Regions from separate parts of the Homo sapiens genome. Here region 2 is reported to be linked to region 1. The links are microRNA targets in miRTarBase. Many come from high-throughput screens and were not tested one by one. Region 1 holds a microRNA gene; the other region holds the end of a gene's coding sequence.
Evidence for each region. Region 1 holds the annotated microRNA hsa-miR-7975 (AUCCUAGUCACGGCACCA, at 1,313-1,330, shown strand). A microRNA usually pairs through its seed, bases 2 to 8, with sites in the 3' UTR of a target mRNA and lowers its output. Matches are read on the target gene's strand: a 7mer-m8 pairs with bases 2 to 8, a 7mer-A1 pairs with bases 2 to 7 and ends in A, and an 8mer does both.

Region 1 (4,261 bases):
GAGAATAAGAGGCCTTCTGACCCTTCAGGGTCTAGGGCTGTAAAGGGCCTCAGGGGTGCTGCCAAACGAGCCATGAACTGGGCGGGGTTTTTATATTTGATGAAAAAGAGCCTAAACACTAACTGATCTGGGAGAGGTCGGATAAAGGAAAAGGAGCATTAACCTTGACTATGCCTTTGGCTCCAGCCACCTCTTTCAGAGGAAATTGCTGGGCAGGTGGGGGAGGGCTAGCTGCAGAAGAAAACTGTAAGCTGGATCGGGTGTGGGGAGAGGAGGTGATGGAAGGATTATAGGGCGGGGGAGAGGAGGCTGAGGAAGAATTGGAGCCTGATTCAGCCTGGTGGGGAGCGACCTGAGGAGGAGCAGCCTGGGGAAGAGGGGAGAGGTCAGATGGGTCGGTAGAAAAGGAAGATTGAAAAGACTCAGTGACGCTTGGGGTTGAGACTGAGGGGACAGGCAGGAGGGAAAGAAGGAGGATTTGGGACAAGTCGCATTAGGAACAGAGACTAGGGAGGGACCAATGTGTAAAAGAATGCCTGGATATCAGGTACCTCAGACCTTTGGCCCATTTTACGACAAGAATTATCTAGATCTTGTAGGATGGAAAAATCAAAATTGCCGTTTTCTGGCTATTTAGAACCATTGTCGAGTTTGTATTGGGGTTAAGCAGCATTGCAGAAGAAAATAAGGTGTTTAGGTTTTAGGTCAGGTGTGAGTTGAAGAGGTTTTAAGTTCTTGAGAACACAGGCTAAGGGAGAAGGAGGGTCGGACGGTGGAAGGTTGCCTATAGTGAAGGAGGCAAGCCCAGAGAAAAGAGAGAGTAGAGACATGGAGAGAAGGGGTGGGGGGTGCTTGCCCCCCAGGAAAGTGGTGCTTGCCACTAAGGGTGAAGGATCAAGGCAAGCGTCCCCGTGGTGATCAGACACCTCTGAAACGTGGGTGAATAATCAAGCAGGCGTCCCCGCAGTGATTAAACACCAAGGGAAGACTGTCTTCCCGAGTCCGTGACCAGCGCTGGGGTTTTGGGTTCACGTATAAAACACGTCTCCTCTGTCTCTACCAGAAAAGGAAAGGAACTGAAATTAAGAGAAGGGAGAGACTGAAGGGTGGCGCCAAGATTCAAAGGAGAAAGAGGTTGAGGGATAGTGAGAGAGGTTGTAGAAGAGAGTAAAAAGAGACTGCTTACCCAATTTAAAATTGGTGAAATATTCCTTGGACTGGTTGGTCTGAGGACCCGAGGTCATAGGTGGATCCTTCTCACGGTGCAAAGAGCAGGAGGACAGGGGATTTATCTCCCAAGGGAGGTCCCCTGATCCTAGTCACGGCACCAAATGTCACGCACGTCCGTGTGAAGAGACCACCAAACAGGCTTTGTGTGAGCAAAAAGGCTATTTATTTCACCTGGGTGCAGGTGGGCTGAGTCCGAAAACAGAGTCAGCAAAGGTGGGATTATCATTAGTTCTTATAGGTTTGGGATGGGCGTACAAAGTACATTCTCAAGGGCAGGGAGAATATTACAAAGTACCTTCTTAAAGGCGGGGGAGAATATTACAAAGTACCTTCTTAAGGACCAGGCAGAATATATCGTATCAGTTAGGGTGGGGCGGGAACAAATCACAATGGTAGAATGTCATCAGGTAAGACTATTTTCGCTTCTTTTTTGGATCTTCAGTTGCTTCAGGCCATCTTCATGTATATGTGCAGGCCCACAGGGGATATGATGGCTTAGCTTGGGCTCGGAGGCCCGACACTGGGATATGTAACCATTATTCTAGATGGCTATGCTAAACCCAGCATAATCAGAGGTTCCATTTTGTTGAGAAAGAAGGGGACAACGAATATTGGGCAACAATTTGTCATCTCTGCCACTGAAACCACTGCTTCTCTGTCCACTACATTTTATCAAAGGCAGAGTGTCTTGCAATCAGCTTGACTTGCAAGAGGCTCAAAGGCCTCTTGGAATGCCTTGCATCAGTTTGCTTTTGTGGCATAAAAAGTTACCCCAGGTGGGCGCAGTGGCTCACCCCTGCCTGTAATCCCAGCACTTTGGGAGGCTGAGGCGGGTGGATCACTTGAGGCCAGGAGTTCAAGACCAGCCTGGTCAGCATAGTGAAACCCCATCTCTACTGAAAACACACAAAAAGTAGCCAGGCATGGTGGCTGGTGCCTGTAATTCCAGTTACTTAGGAGGCTGAGGCAGGAGAATCACTTGACCCTCAGAGGTGGAGGTTGCAGTGAGCCGAGGTCATGCCACTGCATTCCAGCCTGGATGACAGAGTGGGACTTGGTCTCAAAAAAAAAAAGCAAAGAAAAAAGAAAAAAGTTACCCCAAATATTAGTGGCTTGAGTCAACAGTCATCTATTTAACTTATGGTTTGAGGGCTGGGCGCGGTGGCTCATGCCTGTAATCCCAGCACTTTGGGAGGCCAAGGCGGGCGGATCATGAGGTCAGGAGATTGAGACCATCCTGGCTAACACAGTGAAACCCCATCTCTACTAAAAATACAAAAAAATTAGCCAGGTGTGGTGGCAGGCGTCTGTAGTCCCAGCTACTCGGGAGGCTGAGGCAGGAGAATGGCGTGAACCCAGGAGGTGGAACTTGCAGTGAGGGGAGATCGCGCCACTGCACTCCAGCCTGGGAGACAGAGCGAGACTCCGTCTCAAAAAAAAAAAAAAAAATTATAGTTTGAGAGTTGGCAAATTGGGCTGGGCTCCGCTGGGAGTTCTTGTCTGGCTGATCTTGGCTGGACTTGCTCATGCATCTGCAGTCTCCTGGTGAATCAACAGGGGCTGGCTGTGGTCATCCCACTAGTGCCTCTTCATGTTCCCGCAGCTGGACCCAGATCCCTCCTGATTATAATGGCAGTGCTAAACTAACAGTGTCATTGAGGAGTTATGTTTGGCTGATAGTAAGAGACAGCTCCCCAAATAACAATAGTTTTGGTGAATTGGAGGTTTGTTTTCTCATATGTAACCTAAAAGACAAGAGGTAGGCAGTCCAGGGAAGGAAAGGCAGATCCCAACTGCCATCAGGAACTGAGGCTTCTAAGGCCAGGTGCAGTGGCTCATGCCTGTAATCCCAGCACTTTGGGAGGCCAAGGCGGGCAGATCATGAGGTCAGGAGTTTGAGACTATCCTGGCCAACATGGTGAAACCCCGTCTCTACTAAAAATACAAGAATTAGCCAGGCGTGGTGGCGTGCACCTGTAGTCCCAAGAGAATCGCTTGAACCCAAGAGGTGGAGGTTGCAGTGAGCTGAGATCATGCCGCTGCACTCCAGCCTGGGTGACAGAGCGAGACTCCATCTCAAAAAAAAAAAAAAAAAAAAGAAATTCCAGTTCTGGATTTGACAGTCCTCAGATTGAACCTTGTCTTGGCCAATTTCTAGCTCTGTGACTGGGGCTAGTCTCTTAGTCTCTGCCTCCTGGAGTTGATGAGATGATGTACATAAAATATCTGATAGGCATGTGATGTTGGCTGTGAGCATCTTCATATGCCACTCAAGAACATCATCTTTTGCTCTTGTCTTCCTGTGGTAAAGGTTTTGTTTTCACTTCTAGGGTCTGCTCTTTGCTCTCAATGGTAACAGTGGAATGTTGGTGCTTAACCTTGGAACTGCAGGCCCTCCTCACTGGTGTAAATAACCTCAGAAAGATAAGAAGAAAATGTTCCCACTTCTTCTGTAACAGCAGAAAAATAGATATTAGTCTGCACCATAAAGATGGTTCAGATAAGCAGGTGAAGTTAGAACATCCACAAAAGTATAAAATTGACTCTTCTGTCCTGTGTGGAGAGGGGTAAGAGTATTATAAGCCCATTCTGATTTCTGTTATTTTACTCTTTTTTGATTGCGCCAGTGCAATCCAGCCTGGGCGATGACAAGAGTGAAACTCCATCTCAAAACAAACAAACAAACAAACAAAAACAAACCATAAACACAAACTCATAAACAACATACATCCAGCCACAGACATGATTGCAAATACACACAATTATACATAAAGGCACAGAATACATACAGAACCAGAGCTACACGGTAACACCCTGAAGACCGACTTCTTGTTTTCCTGGGGGAAGGAGGTTGGTGTGTAAGTATGTGGAAAGTGTGGGGTTCAGGGACCACACCTAAGAGCCACCAGAACTATCCCTTTCTATAGAAACAGGCTTCGTGGCGGATGAAGACCCCATCTTGGGGTTCCACCAGATATTCCTACTAAAGAACATCAGCTGGGTGTGGTGGCTCATGCCTGTAATCCCAGCA
Region 2 (4,261 bases), not on the chromosome of region 1:
AGTAGGAGGAAAGGAACAGCACCTCAAGGGAGCATGTGACTCTAACTGAGTCTGATTAGGAGGAATCAGGCCTCAAGGGAGCCTGTGACTTTAATGGAGCCTGTGACTCTGAGTCTGACTAGGAGGAAAGGAACCAGGACTCAAGGGAGCCTGTGGCTCTAGCCGAGTCTGTGTAGGAGGAAAGGAACCAGGCCTCAAGGGAGCCTGTGACTCTAACCGAATTTGAATAGTAGGAAAGGAACCACGCCTCAAGGGAGCATGTGACTCTAACTGAGTCTGAATAGGAGGAAAGCAGCCAGGCTTCAAGGGAGCCTGTGACTCTACCCACGTCTGATTAGGAGAAAGAGAACCTGGCTTCAAGGGAGCCTGTGATTCTAGCCAAGTCTGATTAGGAGGAAAGGAACCAGGCTTCAAGGCAGCCTGTGACTCTTGCCGAGTCTGAGTAGGAGGAAAAGAACCAGGTCTCAAGGGAGCCTATGACTCTAAGCGAGTCTGATTAGGAGTAAAGGAACCAGGCCTGAAGGGAGCCTGTGGTTCTACCGGAGTCTGATTGGGGGGAAAAGACCAGGCATGAGAAAACCAGGCTGTGGAGGGATATCGTTGCGGGCCTCATTACCTGGCCGAGAATTGAAAGCCTCCTCTCCGGGCTGTTCAGGTATCAGAGCCTCTGTACCGGGCTGCATGGAAACAATTTATAGCCTCGTTTTCAGGCTGCCTGATCTCATCCTCTGTCTGCAGGGTGGCAGCGTTGACAGGGTGAGGAGAAGCAGGGGGGTGCGTCCACAATGGTTGTTGGCATGTTTCAGCTGAGTTTTGCTGGTTGGGGGAAATAAGTTCATTCGGGTCAGTTAAAAGATCATCATAAAGCGACAACGGGGGTGCGGTAGCCTCTTGCATACGTGGTGGCGGCACAGGCATGTCAGAGTGGAATTCCGCCTGTGAAATTATGGTCTCAATTTGTGCAGTATCCTCAGGGGAAAGAGAAGTGAGAAATTCCTCGCCCTCCTCAGGGAGAGGAAAGAGGGATCAGTCTCCATGCTGTCCTGAGTCTGTAAGGAGTCTAGGACAGAGCGAACCGAAGCCCAGATTGACCAAATGGTGGGTGGAATAAAATGTCCCCCTTTATGAGCAATTTTGAATTGTTGGCCGATCTCATCCCAATCTTTAAGTTCTCAAGTTCCCTCAGTCGGAAACCAAGGGCAAAGAAGATTTACAACCGCAAATAGTTCAATTAACTTTTCAGTAGAAACTTAAACCCCTCCTTCTTTAAGAAGAGTTTTTATAAAATTTAAATAAGCTGAGTACTTAGTACTGGCTTGTACCATGGTGTCCCCAGAATACTCTGAGTGCTCAAGCTTACCACCAAGCTTACTAACAGCAATCCTCAGGAATCTCTTGTCAAAATCCTCCGCTGAATCCCGCACTCAGAGTGCAACCTCACACAGCGAGGGAGAGCCCCACATCAGAGCGCCAGATGTAGGGTCCAGCCCCACAGGGTCAGTGGGTTTTCTCCCCATGTGCAGAGATGAGAGATTGTAGAAATAAAGACACAAGACAAAGAGATAAAAGAAAAGACACCTGGGCCTGGGGGACCACTACCACCAAGACGCGGAGACCAGTAGTGGCCCCAAATGCCAGGCTGCACTGATATTTATTGGATATAAGACAAAGGGGCAGGGTAAGGAATGTGAACCATCTCCAATAATAGGTAAGGTCACATGGGTCATGTGTCCACTGGACAGGGGGCCCTTCCCTGCCTGGCAGCAGAGGCAGAGAGAGAGAGAAGAGAGAGAGACAGCTTATGCCATTATTTCTGCATATCAGACATTTAGTACTTTCACTAATTTGCTCCTGCTATCTAAAAGGCAGAGCCAGGTATACAGGATGGAACATGAAAGCGGACTAGGAGCGTGACCACTGAAGCACAGCATCACAGGGAGACAGGCCTCTGGATAACTGCGGGCGGGCCTGACTGATGTCAGGCCCTCCACAAGAGGTGGAGGAGTAGTCTTCTCTAAACTCCCCCGGGGAAAGGGAGGCTCCTTTTCCCAGTCTGCTAAGTAGTGGGTGTTTTTCCTTGACACTGATGCTACTGCTAGACCATGGTCCACTTTGCAACAGGCATCTTCCCAGACACTGGTGTTACTGCTAGACCAAGCCCTCTGGTGGCCCTGTCCGGGCATAAGAGAAGGCTCACACTCTTGTCTTCTGGCCACTTCGCACTATGTCCCCTCGGCTCCTATCTCTGTATGGCCTGGTTTTTCCTAGGTTATGATTGTAGAGTGAGGATTATTATAATATTGGAATAAAGAGTAATTGCTATAAACTAATGATTAATGATACTCACATATAATCATGTCTATGATCTAGATCTAGTATAACTCTTCTTATTTTATATATTTTATTATACTGGAACAGCTCGTGCCCTCAGTCTCTTTCCTCGGCACCTGGGTGGCTTGCCACCCACATAGGCAGTCATGCCATTCACTGAAAAGCAGAAGCCAAAGGAAAACCGGAGCCTAATCAAGTGTTTTAAACACATCAGGTTTGAAATGCCTATGAAGCACCCAAGTGGAAATGCTGAGTAGGCAGCTGGGCTCCAGGTATCAATCTAGTCTGGGAACTGAGTTTGGAAGATACCAGCAAACATCAAGCCACCAATGAGGATTAGGTCACCTGGAGATTCCCAATTCCATGGAACAGAGGGCCTGAGACTGAATGGCCAACATTTAGACAAGAAGTCTGCCAAGGCTCAATCCAGGTCTCAGGCCAGAACTGTTAGCGCAAGAAGCTCCTTGCTCCTAAGAACAGAGCCTGGCCTGGTAGGTGCCATGCTGGTTCCCTGAGGATGATACCTGCTCAGGAATGAAGGCAACATGCACAAAGGTACCAGGTGAGGGACTGGACCCAGGGATACCACACCCCTGCATCTTCTGTACTTCCTCTAACATAGGTGGTCAGCATACTCTTTCACTCCTTATCCAATTTTATCAAAAATAGAGATTAGGGCAATATGACATAACAGCATTAAGCACTAAACCATTTGACAGGGATTCCTTTCAAAAGTGAAAACCAGTGTACGATTATACAGCTTCTCCACTAATCTTTGTTACCAACAGCCACTTAATCTAATCCTAAAGACTGAGTACAATATTCCTTCTACAATACTTTGAACACTCACTTCAATTTATTGCATATTTTCTAAATGCACCTCTCTCTCTCTTCTGAAAGAGAGAACATTTCATCAGAAAACGAACGGGGTCTTTTGCCTATCTGATGGTCTCACACCTTCACAACAGCTACAAATCCTTGGACCAGCCAGGGACAGACCAACTCCAGGGTTCTCTGACAACAGAAGTCCTGGAAAGGCTCTGCACTCAAAACAAACCCCTACACCACCCCAAGGGAGGGGGATTGTTTCAGGTTCGGGGAGACGCTAAAAGAAATTGAACCTAAACTCTTCATCAGGCATGTCCAGAGTGGCTTTGGCTCTCCATATAGAGCGAGGCCTGCAGACCCTTTGGCTCTTCTTTCTGGTGGCTCCATCTACAGGTTGCACCTGGGCTGAATAAGCAGCTGTCGGGGAGAGAAGCAGCGTATGTCAGAACTGAATAATAACAATTAACATTACCTGTACAGTTATGTTTGCCCATACAATTCTAACCACCTTGCATAAATTAACTGATTAATTCCTCAAATTTGTAAGGTTGATATTACTATCATCCCCCACTTAGAGAGGTTCAGTAGTTTGCAAAAGGTGTTAGTACTACTATGTGGTAGATCCAGGATTTGAACCTAGCTGATCTGGCCCCAGGAATTGCACTCAAACTGTTATGGGATATGGCTTCATTGCTAGTAGAGAAAGCCAAGACACAAAGACATGAGGCAGCTTTCCCCAACCCAGGAGCAGGACCAACATAGGACCATGCTCTTTCCCACTCCTCCCAGGGCCTCCCCGCTGCTTCCCAGGTTCAGTCCTAGGAAGAGGAAAGAGAGGTCCACGCTTTCTGTTTCCCTGCTCCCTCAGGCTTCCCTGAGCCCATCTCCTTCCCCCACCAGGCTTGTTGCTCTGGGCCTTCTTCCTTTCACCCCCTAGACACTTCCTCCTTAAGTTAGGCCTTCCTGAATCAACCAGTGGCTAGCTCCTCACCAGCTCTGAGAGCCCGCAGGGCCTCACGCCATTCGGCTTCCATCTGAGCCCTATAGTCTCCAAACAAGGAGTGCATCAGCTGCCTCTTCCGGGGCAAGGGCGTTCTTTTGC

Region 2: miRTarBase lists C8orf33 as a target of hsa-miR-7975. Seed matches in the 3' UTR shown: 7mer-A1 at 2,262-2,268.

What each region holds. Positions count from the first base shown.
Region 1 is chr19:55,120,294-55,124,554 of GRCh38, reverse strand. It overlaps MIR7975 (microRNA 7975), which reads left to right and starts at 1,263; the gene lies at 1,263-1,330. RefSeq lists an enhancer at 3,535-3,624.
Region 2 is chr8:145,053,333-145,057,593 of GRCh38, reverse strand. It overlaps C8orf33 (chromosome 8 open reading frame 33), which reads right to left. Exons shown (of 5, transcript NM_023080.3): 4 at 4,151-4,261; 5 at 1,564-3,576. The coding sequence ends at 3,437. Among named protein-coding and RNA genes, the nearest start is that of C8orf33, 3.0 kb to the right of the region's middle. RefSeq lists an enhancer at 3,753-4,261.